4 linked regions of the Homo sapiens genome follow. The protein of the gene in region 1 interacts with the protein of each later gene in a biochemical or structural test. Each region holds a gene or a part of one and is shown in the gene's direction. Other genes may lie near its edges.

Region 1 (4,015 bases):
CCACCCCCAAGCCGTCCCCAGCCACGCCCACGCCCCTGGCCAGCCTTCCCTAGCCCCTCAGTCAGTCGCAGCCACCTCCCCCTGCGCTGGACTTGGAGGAAGGGGGTGGAGAATGAGAGGACGCTCTCCGTTCTCCGCCCCGCCTCCCCGCCCCACGTGACATCGGTACGTGGGAGCAACACCGCTGGATGCCCCCTCCCTACTAAATGGTTAAAACAATCATCATAACTCTTAAGGCCCTTTTATGGCTGTTTCTTAGCGAAACCTCACAACATGCCTATGGGGTGGGAATTGATGTTCCATTCCACAGCTGACTCCACTGAAGCCCATGAGGAAGAAATTGGCCCAAATCACAGTCCCCTCTGATTACAGAACAGAAAAAGTCAGCTAAAATCTCAGGATCACTTTTTTCAGGTGATGGGAGGATTTCAGAAGTTCTGTGGACACCTGAAATTGGGCACAAAATCAGGTGTTTCATGCCAGTGGGCATTTTCCAGGTAGAGGGATCATATTTCTCTCGAGAGTCTAAAAGTGTGTTGAACAAGCCCACTCTTTACAGATGGGGAGACTGAGCCTGGGGACAGGGAGTGGCCTGCTCAGAAAAGACTCAGAAATTAAATCCAGTCCAGTGGGTTGATATTTACCCAAATTTCCAGCCTGGGGAGATTGATGCACCCAAGAGAAGAACCCAGAAATGAAACTTTGTTCTTTTATGCTAAAAAATAAAATTCCCCAGAGTGCTTACAATCTCTCCTCCCACTCCCTTTTTCCTGCCCTAAATAAATAATGGCGAATGAGCACCCAGCCAGGGATGTGTCTGATCAAACAATCATGGATCAATAGCTATGTTTGGAGAAGGAATTTGTGGCTGCTCCAGCTACTGGGCATTTTGTCTGGTCCAGTTCATGTAATCTCCCAACACCCCATGAAGCAAGGCTTTGTTAATCCTATTTTACTGAAAATGAACTAAGACTCAGAGAGATAAAGCTGTTGCCCAATGAGCCTTCTTTCTGCCCTCCAGATCCACGGTGCTAATTCCCCTTCCGATGACCTAATGATTCTGAGCTTGGCAAAGGTCTTATCTCCCAGCTCGCCCAGGCCCAGTGTTCCAGGAATGTGACCTTTGCTGCAGCAGCCGCTGGAGGGGGCAGAGGGGATGGGCTGGAGGTTGAGCAAACAGAGCAGCAGAAAAGGCAGTTCCTCTTCTCCAGTGCCCTCCTTCCCTGTCTCTGCCTCTCCCTCCCTTCCTCAGGCATCAGAGCGGAGACTTCAGGGAGACCAGAGCCCAGCTTGCCAGGCACTGAGCTAGAAGCCCTGCCATGGCACCCCTGAGACCCCTTCTCATACTGGCCCTGCTGGCATGGGTTGCTCTGGCTGACCAAGGTACAGGGGAGTGTTGGTGGCCATCTGGGTCAATGTAGGGAGGGCGAGGGTGGTCTGGGCTTGGTGGCACCGACTGACACTCCTTCCTCATAGAGTCATGCAAGGGCCGCTGCACTGAGGGCTTCAACGTGGACAAGAAGTGCCAGTGTGACGAGCTCTGCTCTTACTACCAGAGCTGCTGCACAGACTATACGGCTGAGTGCAAGCCCCAAGGTGTGTTCAGAGCCCAGGTGGGTGGGCTGGGGTGCCCCCTGCTGCTGGAGACTCACTACCATCCACTCTCTGCAGTGACTCGCGGGGATGTGTTCACTATGCCGGAGGATGAGTACACGGTCTATGACGATGGCGAGGAGAAAAACAATGCCACTGTCCATGAACAGGTGGGGGGCCCCTCCCTGACCTCTGACCTCCAGGCCCAGTCCAAAGGGAATCCTGAGCAGACACCTGTTCTGAAACCTGAGGAAGAGGCCCCTGCGCCTGAGGTGGGCGCCTCTAAGCCTGAGGGGATAGACTCAAGGCCTGAGACCCTTCATCCAGGGAGACCTCAGCCCCCAGCAGAGGAGGAGCTGTGCAGTGGGAAGCCCTTCGACGCCTTCACCGACCTCAAGAACGGTTCCCTCTTTGCCTTCCGAGGTGAATCCAGGGCAGGTACTGGGGATGCGGGTCTGCCCCAGGAGCGTCCCTGCTCTCACACCATCTCCTCCACTCTAGGGCAGTACTGCTATGAACTGGACGAAAAGGCAGTGAGGCCTGGGTACCCCAAGCTCATCCGAGATGTCTGGGGCATCGAGGGCCCCATCGATGCCGCCTTCACCCGCATCAACTGTCAGGGGAAGACCTACCTCTTCAAGGTGCCAGGGGCTGTGGGCCAGGGTAGAAAGCATCTAGGGAGGGTTTGAGAGCTATTGCTCCCAGGGACAGGGTGGACAGGGAAGCTGGACCCAGGGCCCTGCAGGACCTGGTGGGAGCTCTGTGAGCACAGGGCAGCCCCAAGACTCCAGGTCCTGGGCAGTGAACCTGGACCTGGGAACGGCTGCCTTAGGGCAAGGGACTCTGCCTCTGTGCCCAGCCAGCGGCCTCCATACCCCTTTTCACTTTCCCCACCTCTTAGGGTAGTCAGTACTGGCGCTTTGAGGATGGTGTCCTGGACCCTGATTACCCCCGAAATATCTCTGACGGCTTCGATGGCATCCCGGACAACGTGGATGCAGCCTTGGCCCTCCCTGCCCATAGCTACAGTGGCCGGGAGCGGGTCTACTTCTTCAAGGGTACTCAGGGGGTGGTGGGAGACTGAGCAGGCAGTGGAGCAGTCTTGGATTCCTTTCACATTTCACTGGGGACAGGCCTCAGCATGTGCCCACCCCTGACCCCCACCTCATGCTGGGAGATCCTAACTTCAACAGCCTCTGGGATCTCCAGTCTTGCCCTGGCCCAGCCCTCCTAATGCCCACCACCCTGCTCCTCAGGGAAACAGTACTGGGAGTACCAGTTCCAGCACCAGCCCAGTCAGGAGGAGTGTGAAGGCAGCTCCCTGTCGGCTGTGTTTGAACACTTTGCCATGATGCAGCGGGACAGCTGGGAGGACATCTTCGAGCTTCTCTTCTGGGGCAGAACCTCTGGTATGGAGAGAGGGCAAGTCTTGCTTCTCCCTCAAAAGGGCTGAAACCCCTTGGTATTGGTAGAGCCAGGCCGGCTGGAGGGGGCTGTGGTTGTGGAGCTATCGATCAAAGTCTGTTTGCTCAGGCCAGACTTTGCTTCTGTTGACCTTTTGGGGAAAGCTCAGCTCTACCTGGACCCCACACCTTGGACTTTGCCTAGCACAGCTGAGAGCACAGCCAGCAGAGGGAGGGGCTGTGGCTGAGGAGTTTAGGGGGCCTGGGGGGGTGGGGTCGAGACACCAGTGATATGGTGGAGGGAAAGCACAGGGGGAAGGGAATTGGACTGAGAGTCAAAGGCCTGGCTCTGCCATTCGCTGCTGTGTGTCTTTGGGCAAGGTGCAGCAGATGAACTCTAATGGCCCCGCTGGAAGGGGCAAGATTCGGACCCCCAAGACCTCTCATTCACCCCTTCCCTGCCACAGCTGGTACCAGACAGCCCCAGTTCATTAGCCGGGACTGGCACGGTGTGCCAGGGCAAGTGGACGCAGCCATGGCTGGCCGCATCTACATCTCAGGCATGGCACCCCGCCCCTCCTTGGCCAAGAAACAAAGGTTTAGGCATCGCAACCGCAAAGGCTACCGTTCACAACGAGGCCACAGCCGTGGCCGCAACCAGAACTCCCGCCGGCCATCCCGCGCCACGTGGCTGTCCTTGTTCTCCAGTGAGGAGAGCAACTTGGGAGCCAACAACTATGATGACTACAGGATGGACTGGCTTGTGCCTGCCACCTGTGAACCCATCCAGAGTGTCTTCTTCTTCTCTGGAGGTAGGAGCCGCTGCCACCCCTGAAGCTGGTCTAGCTTGGGTTTTCCTTGCTGTCCCTGGTGCACAAGGGCTGAACGCAGCCTGCAAGTAGTGACCACAGAAAGCCAGGCCAGAAGTCCTTAGCTGCATCATGGATGTTCACTTTCCCTTCTGGGAGAGACCCTAGACTTCTCAAGGGAAGAGTGGGCAGGGCCAGGCTGGGCCTCAC
Region 2 (3,500 bases), about 16 Mb from region 1:
CCTGATAGCAAATCAGGATTAGGGTTAGTGCCAAGTCACAATGTGAACCCCAAAACCTTGATGTCATTCCAAACCCTAATGAAAACCTCAAAATCCAGCCAGTCATGGTGGCTCACACCTGTAATCCCAGCACTTTGGGAGACCGAGGCAGGCAGATTGCCTGAGGTCAGGAGTTAGAGACCAACCTGGCCAACATGGTGAAAACCCATCTCTACTAAAAATACAAAAAAAATTAGCCGGGTGTGGTGACGCATGCCTGTAATTCCAGCTACTCGGGAGGCTGAAGCAGGAGAATCACTTGAACCCAGGAGGCAGAGGTTGCAGTGAGCCAAGAGTGTGCCACAGCACTCCAGCCTGGGTGACAGAGCAAGACTCTGTCTCAAAAAAAAAAAAAAAAGCCAGGCGCAGTGGCTCACGCCTGTAATCCCAGCACTTTGGGAGGCCAAGGCGGGTGGATCACGAGGTCAGGAGATCAAGACCATCCTGGCTAACACAGTGAAACCCCGTCTACTAAAAATACAAAAAAAAAAAAAAAATTAGCTGGGCGTGGTGGCGGGTACCTGTAGTCCCAGCTACTTGGGAGGCTGAGGCAGGAGAATGGCGTGAACCCCGGGGGGCGGAGCTTGCAGTGAGCCGAGATAGTGCCACTGCACTCCAGCCTGGACGACAGAGCGAGACTCCGTCTCCAAAAATAAAATAAACACCTGAAAATCCCAGTATCCCCTAAGCTCTGATGTAAATTGACAAACCCTGACATTGTCCCAAACCTCCAAATAAACCCGAGCCCCGATACCATCTACAAACTCCTTTTCGTCCTCAGATCTTCTTACTCCCTAAGCCCCTATGTGAACCCCAAGCCCACTGTTTTCCTAACCCTGATGTAATCCCTAAACCTCACACATCCCCAACTTACCCGCACACCCCAATGTGCCCCTCTAGACACGAATCGTCCTGGACTGTGGGGAAGATGACGTATGTGTGCCCCAGCTTCAGCTCACTGCCAGCGTGTGAGGAGGCCTCCCATTCTGCCCGACCCTGGCCCTTTCTGCCTATCATACCTGCTCCACACCTTAGTCCCCTCTTTTCCCACATCCTGGGCCCAGACCCAGGCTCCCTGGCTTCACTCCTCTTTCCCCACAGGACGGGCTCCCCGCTCCTAGTTGGGGCAGATAATGTCCTGGAGCTGCAGATGGACGCAGCCAACGAGGGCGAGGGGGCCTATGAAGCAGAGCTGGCCGTGCACCTGCCCCAGGGCGCCCACTACATGCGGGCCCTAAGCAATGTCGAGGTATGGCCCCCACCCTGGGAACAGTACCCGGGACCTGGGAGGCACTGGAGCCTTGGCTCTCTCATCTCCCTCCCTGAGAGTCCCTCTTCTCTTCTGCTTTGCTGTCAAAGATGTAATTTTTTATTTTTTTTTTAATTTGGAGGAGGAATACTTGCTAATGGCACAGAATTCCAAAACTCTATTACAAAAACCAGAAAAACAAAAAAGGTTTAGGAACCAAATGTTAACAGGAACCTCTGTTAACATTTGGTGGATTTCCTTCCAGTCTTTTTTTCAATATTGACTCACACTCACATAAGTATATATTTATTTTTTATGTTGTTAATATAGTTTATAATAATGGGGGTCATACTCTAATGTTTTGTGTTTTTTATTTCCAAAATGAAAATGCCTAAAAAGTAGTAGTGCTACAGCAATACACACACTAGCATGTGACAGTCCCTTGAGACCCCACCCCAAGAAACCCCCCCCTCCCTACCTTGGCACACAAATCTTTCCAGACCTTCCAAGGGAGCTTAAATATATATATATGATGCTCTGTAATTTCTTTCTTGGAACTGCCTTCCTGAAGGGCTTTGAGAGACTCATCTGTAATCAGAAGAAGGAGAATGAGACCAGGGTGGTGCTGTGTGAGCTGGGCAACCCCATGAAGAAGAACGCCCAGGTGAGGCTGCTGGGTCGTGGTACCGGGTCTCCACCAGGGGCTCATGAATAACCAGATTTTAGGGGTGAGGTTTTAGAGCCACATAGTTCTGGGCCAGAATCTTGGTCCTCACACTCCCTTGCCACATGTCCTTGGGTGAGTGACTTTCCCTCTCTGAGCCCCTTTACCCAGTGGGCTTCCAGGTAAAATAGAAATAATAATGGTGGCCTGGTGCGGTGGCTCACGCCTGTAATCCCAGCACTCTGGGAGGCCGAGACGGGTGGATCACGAGGTCAGGAGTTCAAGACCAGCCTGGCCAACATAGCAAAACCCCGTCTCTACTAAAAATACAAAAATTACCCGGGCATGGTGGCGCACGCCTATAGTCAGAGCTACTCGGGAGGTTGAGGCAGAAAAATCACTTGAACCTGGGAGGTGGAGGTTGCAGTGAGCCGAGATCATGCCACTGCACTCCAGCCTGGGTGACAGAGTGAGACTCCGTCTCGGAAAAAAAAAAAAAGAAAAAGAATAGTGGTGATCTTGGAGGGTGAAGACTGGAGGCCACATTCAGGGCAGGGCTGTCCTAAGTGGGGCACTTGGGCAGTGACCTTGGCCCTCCTCATCTCCCAGATAGGAATCGCGATGTTGGTGAGCGTGGGGAATCTGGAAGAGGCTGGGGAGTCTGTGTCCTTCCAGCTGCAGATACGGAGGTACTGACCTGGCGAGCGTGCCTACCCACCACCCTTCCCCCGTCTGACCCCCGTGCAGAGCCCCTCAGGTCCCTTCCATACAGAAGGGTCTTTCGAGGCCAGGCGCAGTGGCTCACACCTGTAATCCCAGCACGTTGCGAGGCCAAGGCAGAAGGATCACTGGAGGTCAGGAGTTGGAGACCAGCCTGGCCAACATGGTGAAACCCCATCTCTACTAAAAATATAAAAATTAGCTGGGCATGGTGGTGCGCACCTACAATCCCAGCTACTCGGGAGGCTGAGGCAGGAGAATAGCTTGAACCGAACCTGGGAGGTGGAGGTTGCAGTGAGCTGAGATTGGGCCACTGCACTCCAGCCTTCCAGCCTGGGCGACAGTGCGAGATTCTATCTCAAAAGAAAAAAAAAAAGGTCTTTGAAGAAGCCTGGTTCCCTTTCTTCCTCAGAGATTTATGTCTGAGTCTTGGAGCCCTAGAGGAAGTTCTTTCCCAGGTCTAACTTCAGTGTGGCATGCTCTTTGTATAATTAGCTCTCTCTGAACTCTCTAAAATTCTGGCCTCACCCCCAGAAAGTCACTGGGCTGGTGTCCCTGGCCCTGTTTCTCCTCATCCCCTCCCCTCTAGCAAGAACAGCCAGAATCCAAACAGCAAGATTGTGCTGCTGGACGTGCCGGTCCGGGCAGAGGCCCAAGTGGAGCTGCGAGGGTGAGAGGCCAGGGGTGGAGAAGGGAGATGGCATTCAGGGCTCTAAACTCCAGGGGGCGCTGGGGAAACCTCACAGGCCAATCAGGGCATCACACTCTCTCTGGGGGTCTTGGGCACCTGCAGGAACTCCTTTCCAGCCTCCCTGGTGGTGGCAGCAG
Region 3 (3,500 bases), on another chromosome or scaffold:
GGATCAGCCAGAATAGAAGAATAATAAGACAAACTAGGCTAGAGGATGAAGTAATATTTGGAGGGGAAGCAAAAACTGGTTCCTATGAAAAAAAGCCAGATTAAGGGTAGCCAGATAAATTACAAGATGATTTAAACAAACAAACAAAAAACATGATTATATCTCCTTTTTCTTCTCTTTTTTACCAATTAAATCACCCTTAAATTTCCTTCTTTGCTGACGATAGCATCATAGGTTGCTCTCTTTGGCCCTACTTTAGTTACATGGCTTCAGTAAATTGGAGGCAGGGTCACCTAGGTCCTGTTACCTGTAATGGAAGCTGCTAAGTCCCTATTTTTCTGTGGCCCCTTGACCCTGTCCTCTGAGGAGTAGCCTCTGCCAGCAGGCTTGCCAATGGCTTTTTTCCTCCCAGGGCCCATCCCATCTCCAGGAAAGGGTGTTTCTCTTGAGGCTGGCAACTTAGAGGACCTTAGTGAGTTCTTGGTAGATGTGCCTCAGAGGTTTCTGAAGCACCGGCTGCTCCATGACGCAAGTGACATGATGTGCATGGCTTAGAGTCCCACGCTTGAAAGAGGAACGGCCCAAGATGGAAGCTTTTAGTTTGGAGAAGCATGGGCACGTTCACTGTCACTATACACGGGCATCTGGAAGAAGAAGATTCTAGCAGAAAAATATAAAATAATAGCAATTTTTTTATCTTTCTGGGGCTCAGCTATACAACTCCTGAAGCACAGACAAGGTCCAGAGAGCAAGTCAAAGAGATCCTTGAACACCCGAAGAGAAGACAACTCACACACACTTTTGATGGATCAGAAAGGCAGCCTCTTGTCTTTTATTGCTTCAACTAGTTTGACTATCTGTAGGGCCAGAAGAAATTAGAAGCACTGAATTAAAAGAGGAGGGCTAGAGGAGGACACCGTGACATCAACAGCAGGTCCTTTAGACCAGCAGTCCCCAGCCTTTTTGGCACCAGGGACCAGTTTTGTGGAATACAATTTTTCCACAGAGCATTACTTTTATTGTGCACTTTATTTCATTGTAATATATAATGAAATAATTATACAACTCACCATAATATAGAATCAGTGGGAGCGCTGAGCTTGTTTTCCTGCAACTATATATGGTCCCATCTGGCAGTGATGGGAGACAGTGTCCGATCATCAGGCATTTGATTATCATAAGGAGCGTGCAACCTAGATCCCTAGCACGTGCAGTTCACAATAGGGTTCTTGCTCCTTTGAGAATCTAATGCCGCCGCTAATCTGACAGGAGGTGGAGCTCAGGCAGTACTGCAAGCAATGGGGAGTGGCTGTAAACACAGATGAAGCTTTGCTTGCTTGCCTGCTGCTCACCTCCTGCTGTGCGGCCCGGCTCCTGATGGGCCATGGACCTGTACCGTCCAGGTTGGGGACTTCTGCTTTAGACTAAAGATTTTTACCACTGTATCACAGTAACGCTATCTCAGATAATCAGACCACAGAAGCAATGCCTGTTGTGGACAAGTTTTCTGAATCTTACCCTGTTTATAGTTAACCCACTCTTTATCTCTTTGGCTTCCTGTCTGGCTTCTGACTTTTGCTTCTGGCCTCTTTATTTGGAGTCCTATTTTTAGTATGGTGTTCTCCAACTTTCCTTTTGTCTCCGGCTGCCATTTGGAGGTCTTTGTAGTCTTTGGTAATAAACTCCCATCTCTAGTCCTATTACAGGAATTGATGCCGATGGTAATAACCTTGAATTATGAAGATGAGGCTAAATTATAGTCAGGAAACTGAACACATGCAATAAATTTTACAGAGTTTCACATCCAAAATTGCTGAAATATTATTTTGGAAAAAAAAAACAGATTTGATGCTTAAATGGGCAGATCTTCAGCTATTTGGAAAGCTCAGCTCTTCAGAAGAACAAAACCTTTGAAGTTCTTGGATACCCTTTGATTACTGTACTACTTGACACACAATTGGCATCCTAATCCCTAGAGGAAAACAGGGTGACTATGAAAAGGTTCTCAGGTCGTTTACATGGTTGTTTGGATTATTTATTAGGACTCTTCAGGACACTGATGTTCAGTAGGAGGAGAGTATGTATGTGTGTACATGTGTGCACACGTGCCTGTGAACTTACATGTGAGCATAGGCACTCCACCAGGTTTGGAATCCCTGGGGGAGCTTTTACGAAGACTAACCACAGTTTCCTTCAAGGGGATTCTGATTTTCCCTGGAAAGGAAAATGAGAGTTGCCTCGGCACAGATGTTGGTTTCAAAGAGCTCTCCTGGTGACTCACATGTGTGATTGTTCAGATTTGGATCTTCCAATTGGAATTCGCAGATTTAAAATATAGCCCAAGAGTTTTGAGTCATTCTGTCTCATAAAAATGCCGCCAGGTATTCTTTTTAGAGTCACAATATGAGGCTGGATGGACGTAGGATAACAATTCTATACATGAGTTCAGGGTTTGTCTTGTCCAGAGCTGCGAAGGTCTATTGTTTCTCTCCACCTGGGATAGTTAGGAAACCCATGCTTCTGTTGAAGTCACTCTGAGCTTGTTTAAACCTGAAAGCTTGTGAACTTACGATTTTCATTACCCTCCCCTCTCTACAGAACAGTGTGTCAGAATATTAATGAATGATAGGAAAATAAAATCTTTCTTTCCTGCTTTCTCTAACCTCTTTCACGTTAACAAACTCTAAATAGCATCTACTGGTGTGATCAAGATAGGCTTCCCATGTATACCAATAATGGAGGGAATATGAGAGGGATAAAGTGTCTGAAAGATGAAGGGAAAGAGGAGAAAACAAAGATGAAAAACAACTGTTTTTAGATAGTAACGATCTTTGCCATATTTTTAAAGCTTTATGCCAAAGGCAGCCTTTATTGCGATATGTTCAGACAAAACTCCAGTGCTCTAGGAATGCATTCAAACCCATGATAGTTGTTATAGCTCTCAGCCCATTTGTAAATTTGAACACACCTTTCTTTGATTAAGTTTCCCCTGTATGTATGATTAAAATCATGACCAGAAGTATGAGGTAGAGGGAAAGAAAATAGGAAGGAGAATTCTCTTCAAGTTGAACATCTTCTATATGGGCAAGAACACCTGCTGTCTTGGAGTTGGATAAATCCCCATTTTACACATGAAGAAATGCTTGGGGAACTTAATGACATATCTAAGGGTACCCATAACTTCATGGCCCTAAACAATCCTTTGGGACCACCAAAGAATACTTATATTTAAATTTGCTAACCTCAGAGGACTTGGAGCTCTCCAGTATTTCTAGTTTCTTCTCACCAACTCACACCCTTTCAATAGTCATTTCTCATTTAAAACCTTACCACCTCCAGAATAGTATGATTCATACCACTGTCTGGGTTATCTATTTGCTGCACAACAAGCTTCAAAATGTTGTGGCCTCAAATAATAATCATTTTGTTATACTTCACAAGTTTTTGTGGGTCAGAAATTTCATCAGAGCTTGGCTGGATATTGTCTTGCTCCATGTGGC
Region 4 (3,500 bases), on another chromosome or scaffold:
AGAAGAAAGAGCAGAAACAAATGTAGTTCTATCAGCTCCTTTCCCCACCTCAGCCCAGAATTTCGGGACCTATGTTCTTCTGACAGAGAGGCACGAGGTTAGAAAATTTGCAGTGCAGAGGGTTGGATTTTGACTTGAGACAGAAATAATGGGCATGTGTCTTTAAACAGTGGGTTGCGTGTTGATTTTGCAGTGTGTTGCTGCAGGAGATCATCAATGAGGAGGAGATGAAGCATGATTTGTATTATAAGAAAATGAAAATACATGTTCTGTGGATTCACACTTCCCTTACCAACATTTCCCTGCCTTCTGCCTAATTGACCCCAGTCATCATCCCTTTCTACACCTTTCTCAAAGGAAAATATGGGCAAAGAGATTGTTTTCTACTCCTCTTTCTGTTGTTTCTGAGTTGTGTGCTCCTTTCTGTGGAGCGCCCATTTCTGAACCAATGAAGCGTGATCGGCCAAAACCTTGGGGCAGTCCTTGCACTAGTTACTGATTGACAAGGAAGGACTTCACCAAATGATGTCCTTTGTCCTGTTGTATGGGGTCACTTCTTTTCTTTCCTTGTAGCATGGATCTGTTTTAATATCTAATCTATCTAGAGTGAATGTGAGCCAGTGAACTCTGGTCAGCCTGCATTGCAAGTGCCCAATCAATTTTTGATAATACAAATAATGACAAAAGTAATCATTTTGTTGACTGAAGAGAAATGTTGTTTTCTGTTCCTTCCTATTAAAATTCTAGGTCCCTAGGCTGTTCAACCAGCTTGCAAAATTGTCATTGCACTGGTAATTATTACTACCTTTAATGGCCCCAAATTACTCAGAACTTGGTAGCATGTTTAAATGAGTGTTATTAATGTGTGTGTGCGTGTGTGTGTATGAAAAGTTGTAGCACACACATATATTAGATATTATTTGCCTGGCCTATGGGCAGTTCTTAGAATACTTATGGATTCTTGGATTGCTTATGGTAAATCAGTGGCTCCAGGGATCCGTGACCTAAAAGCTGAGATTCCATAATTAGAATAGATTCTTCAGTTAACATATTGGTGTGCCTAGTTGCTTTAAGACAAAGTAACACAAGGCTCCTCACTGAATGTTGAATCTCTCTTTAGATAGAAAGACTAACTTCACAGGGCCTTTCTTCTGACTTTCACTTTCCATAGGATGAACATCGTAAAGCCATAGACTTTGATTCAATGTACGTTGAGATAATTTGTGAATTTTAACAATATCCTCTCTCCCTCCTTTTTGTTGTCTGCAGTTTGTGGTTATAAAAGAACACCAAGACCTCAAGAATGGGGGTCAACCAGTGGCTGGTGAGGATGGCCAGGCAGCAGATGGTCAGTTTTTATCCCTGGCTCCTGGTGAATGGTTATTTTTACTTAGATCCTGACTGTTTTTCAATGAAAAGTCTCATTTAACCACACACACACACACAAACAAAATAACTAAATTGTATAAGCTATGTGAATAGCTGGGCTGTATTGAAATGCCATGGACCTGATTTGCACTGGAGTTCTATCTTATATGAGGTTACCACGTTCACTCAAAACTCTAGTCACAGGGCAGCCCGTGTTCTTGCACTTTGAGCAAGAACACAATGGATGACTCCTTGATTTGAATTGAGTTTTGGGGTCATTCTTAAGGTCCAGGATCTATACTGGTAGCTGTAGGTATAGTCCCAGTTAAGTTGTAAATGGCTCCAAGAAAACATGTTCCATGTTCAGCCCATCTAGTGGGAAGTGTTTCTGTAAATTTAAGTTGATCTGAGGATTGTCCTGGGGATTTCAGAGTATTCAGGTCTTATCAGGGGCATGACCTTAGCCAGACGCCTGGCTGTCTGTGAAGTCCAGCCAAGCCACTTGTGGAGAGACCATAAAATCAACCCAGGTTCTCAGGAACTCAGTCTACTTCAGATAGAAATGAACTCAGATACCCTTAAGAGTTGTATTATGATCAGCCTTTTGGTTTTGGGTCTCAGGTTGAGTTTTGTTTCACAGGCCAGAGGACATTGTTTCACAGGCCTTTGTGTCGTGAGCCTTTGGAAAGGTTTAGAGAAACTTTTAGCCAACAAAAACAGCTCCTCTGCTAATGAAAGGAGCTAATGAAATATCAACTCCAATTGAATTTTCTATATTTTTCCTTCTTCAATGTGCTTATTATCATAACCTCCTCCTCAGATTTCTTTCTGGAAAGAACATAGGCTTCTTGTTTTGGAAAACTCACTCTAAATTCCCTTCTCATACCTATGTTGCCATGAAACCCCAAATACTGAATTCAGTACAACTTTATTACCTAATTTGAAGAAGGCCTGGATATTTAAGGTACACTTAAAAATTGAATATGAAAACTACAATAAATAGTATAGTATTTTATATGGATCATTACTTTCCCCTGATAATGAAAAAATTCAGCATTTTCAAAAATTTGCTTCAGTGCTTATTGTTATTGGTAGCACTATTAAAAAGTAATGGAATATTTGTAGTTACTACTTTTCCTTGAGCAGCTAAAAGTGCATAATTCTTACAATGGTAACCCACTATAGAGGCACATATAATGTAATTTTGCAAGCTAATAGCACAACGATTTTACAGGAATTTGGTTAAACTTAGAAAAGAACTAAGGACTCATTACAGTTAGCTGAGTACTCAGGAATATATTAGAATGTCTCTTTTGCTGTTGTTTTTTTCCCCCCGCACTGTACTGCAAACAATTTGACCCATTCTCTGTGGGCCACTCATATAACTATCTCCCAGCATGAGTGATCACATCCCCAATCATGTCCAGCTGTCTCATAAATGCCTGGGGTGAAAATGCGCATAGAGATTGGGGTGGGGGGAGATTGAGTGAGGAATGAAATAAAAGATCAAGTTTGGCTCTGAGCCAGTCTCTTCTCTGCTCCTGGAAAACTCATTACAACACAATACTAGTGTAGTTCCATAAAACCATCTTCACTGAGCTCAGCTGACATCAGTTGACACAGGTTAAGTGCAGAGTACATGCTAGGGGCAGCTGACTATGCCAGGGGAAAAGAAAAGAAATACACCTAAAATCTGAATTCAGACCAGGCACAGTGGCTCACACCTGTAATCCGAGCACTTTGGGAGGCCAAGGTGGGCAGATCATTTGAGGTCAGGAGTTTGAGACCAGCCTGTCTCTACCAAATGAGACCAGCCTGTCTCTATGGTGGAACGCTGTCTCTACCAAAAAGTACAAAAATTAGCCTGGCATGCTGGTGCACACCTGTAGTCCCAGCTACTCAGGAGGCTGAGGTAGGAGGATCCCTTGAGCCTGGGAGATGGAGGTTGCAGTGAGCTGAGATCTCAACACTGCACTCCAGTGAGACTCCATCTCAAAACAAAGATAGAGACTCCATCTCAAAAACAAAAAACAAAAAACCTGAGCTCTATCTACTCTCAAGTCATTTGTGGTCCAGATGGGGAGACAGAAGTACACAGTAAAAGCTAAAGAGCAATGTGTCAGGTTCTTTAA

The links. Proteins that work in one complex are often made in the same cells at the same time.
Region 2: the proteins of VTN (region 1) and ITGA2B form a complex in vitro, tested with the Homo sapiens proteins (one study listed by BioGRID).
Region 3: the proteins of VTN (region 1) and TGFB2 form a complex in vitro, tested with the Homo sapiens proteins (one study listed by BioGRID).
Region 4: the proteins of VTN (region 1) and EGF form a complex in vitro, tested with the Homo sapiens proteins (one study listed by BioGRID).

What each region holds. Positions count from the first base shown.
Region 1 is NC_000017.11:28,367,508-28,371,522, reverse strand, and holds the start of VTN (vitronectin precursor), read left to right. Parts: upstream 1-1,215; 5' UTR 1,216-1,319; coding exon 1,320-1,383; intron 1,384-1,476; coding exon 1,477-1,596; intron 1,597-1,671; coding exon 1,672-2,016; intron 2,017-2,094; coding exon 2,095-2,234; intron 2,235-2,494; coding exon 2,495-2,651; intron 2,652-2,849; coding exon 2,850-3,002; intron 3,003-3,463; coding exon 3,464-3,808; intron 3,809-4,015. UniProt on the Homo sapiens protein: Vitronectin is a cell adhesion and spreading factor found in serum and tissues. Vitronectin interact with glycosaminoglycans and proteoglycans. Is recognized by certain members of the integrin family and serves as a cell-to-substrate adhesion molecule.
Region 2 is NC_000017.11:44,376,150-44,379,649, reverse strand, and holds part of ITGA2B (integrin alpha-IIb preproprotein), read left to right. Parts: intron 1-939; coding exon 940-1,007; intron 1,008-1,140; coding exon 1,141-1,288; intron 1,289-1,859; coding exon 1,860-1,952; intron 1,953-2,561; coding exon 2,562-2,641; intron 2,642-3,261; coding exon 3,262-3,342; intron 3,343-3,465; coding exon 3,466-3,500. UniProt on the Homo sapiens protein: Integrin alpha-IIb/beta-3 is a receptor for fibronectin, fibrinogen, plasminogen, prothrombin, thrombospondin and vitronectin. It recognizes the sequence R-G-D in a wide array of ligands.
Region 3 is NC_000001.11:218,407,836-218,411,335, forward strand, and holds part of TGFB2 (transforming growth factor beta-2 proprotein isoform 2 preproprotein), read left to right. Parts: intron 1-3,500.
Region 4 is NC_000004.12:110,006,883-110,010,382, forward strand, and holds part of EGF (pro-epidermal growth factor isoform 1 preproprotein), read left to right. Parts: intron 1-1,269; coding exon 1,270-1,348; intron 1,349-3,500.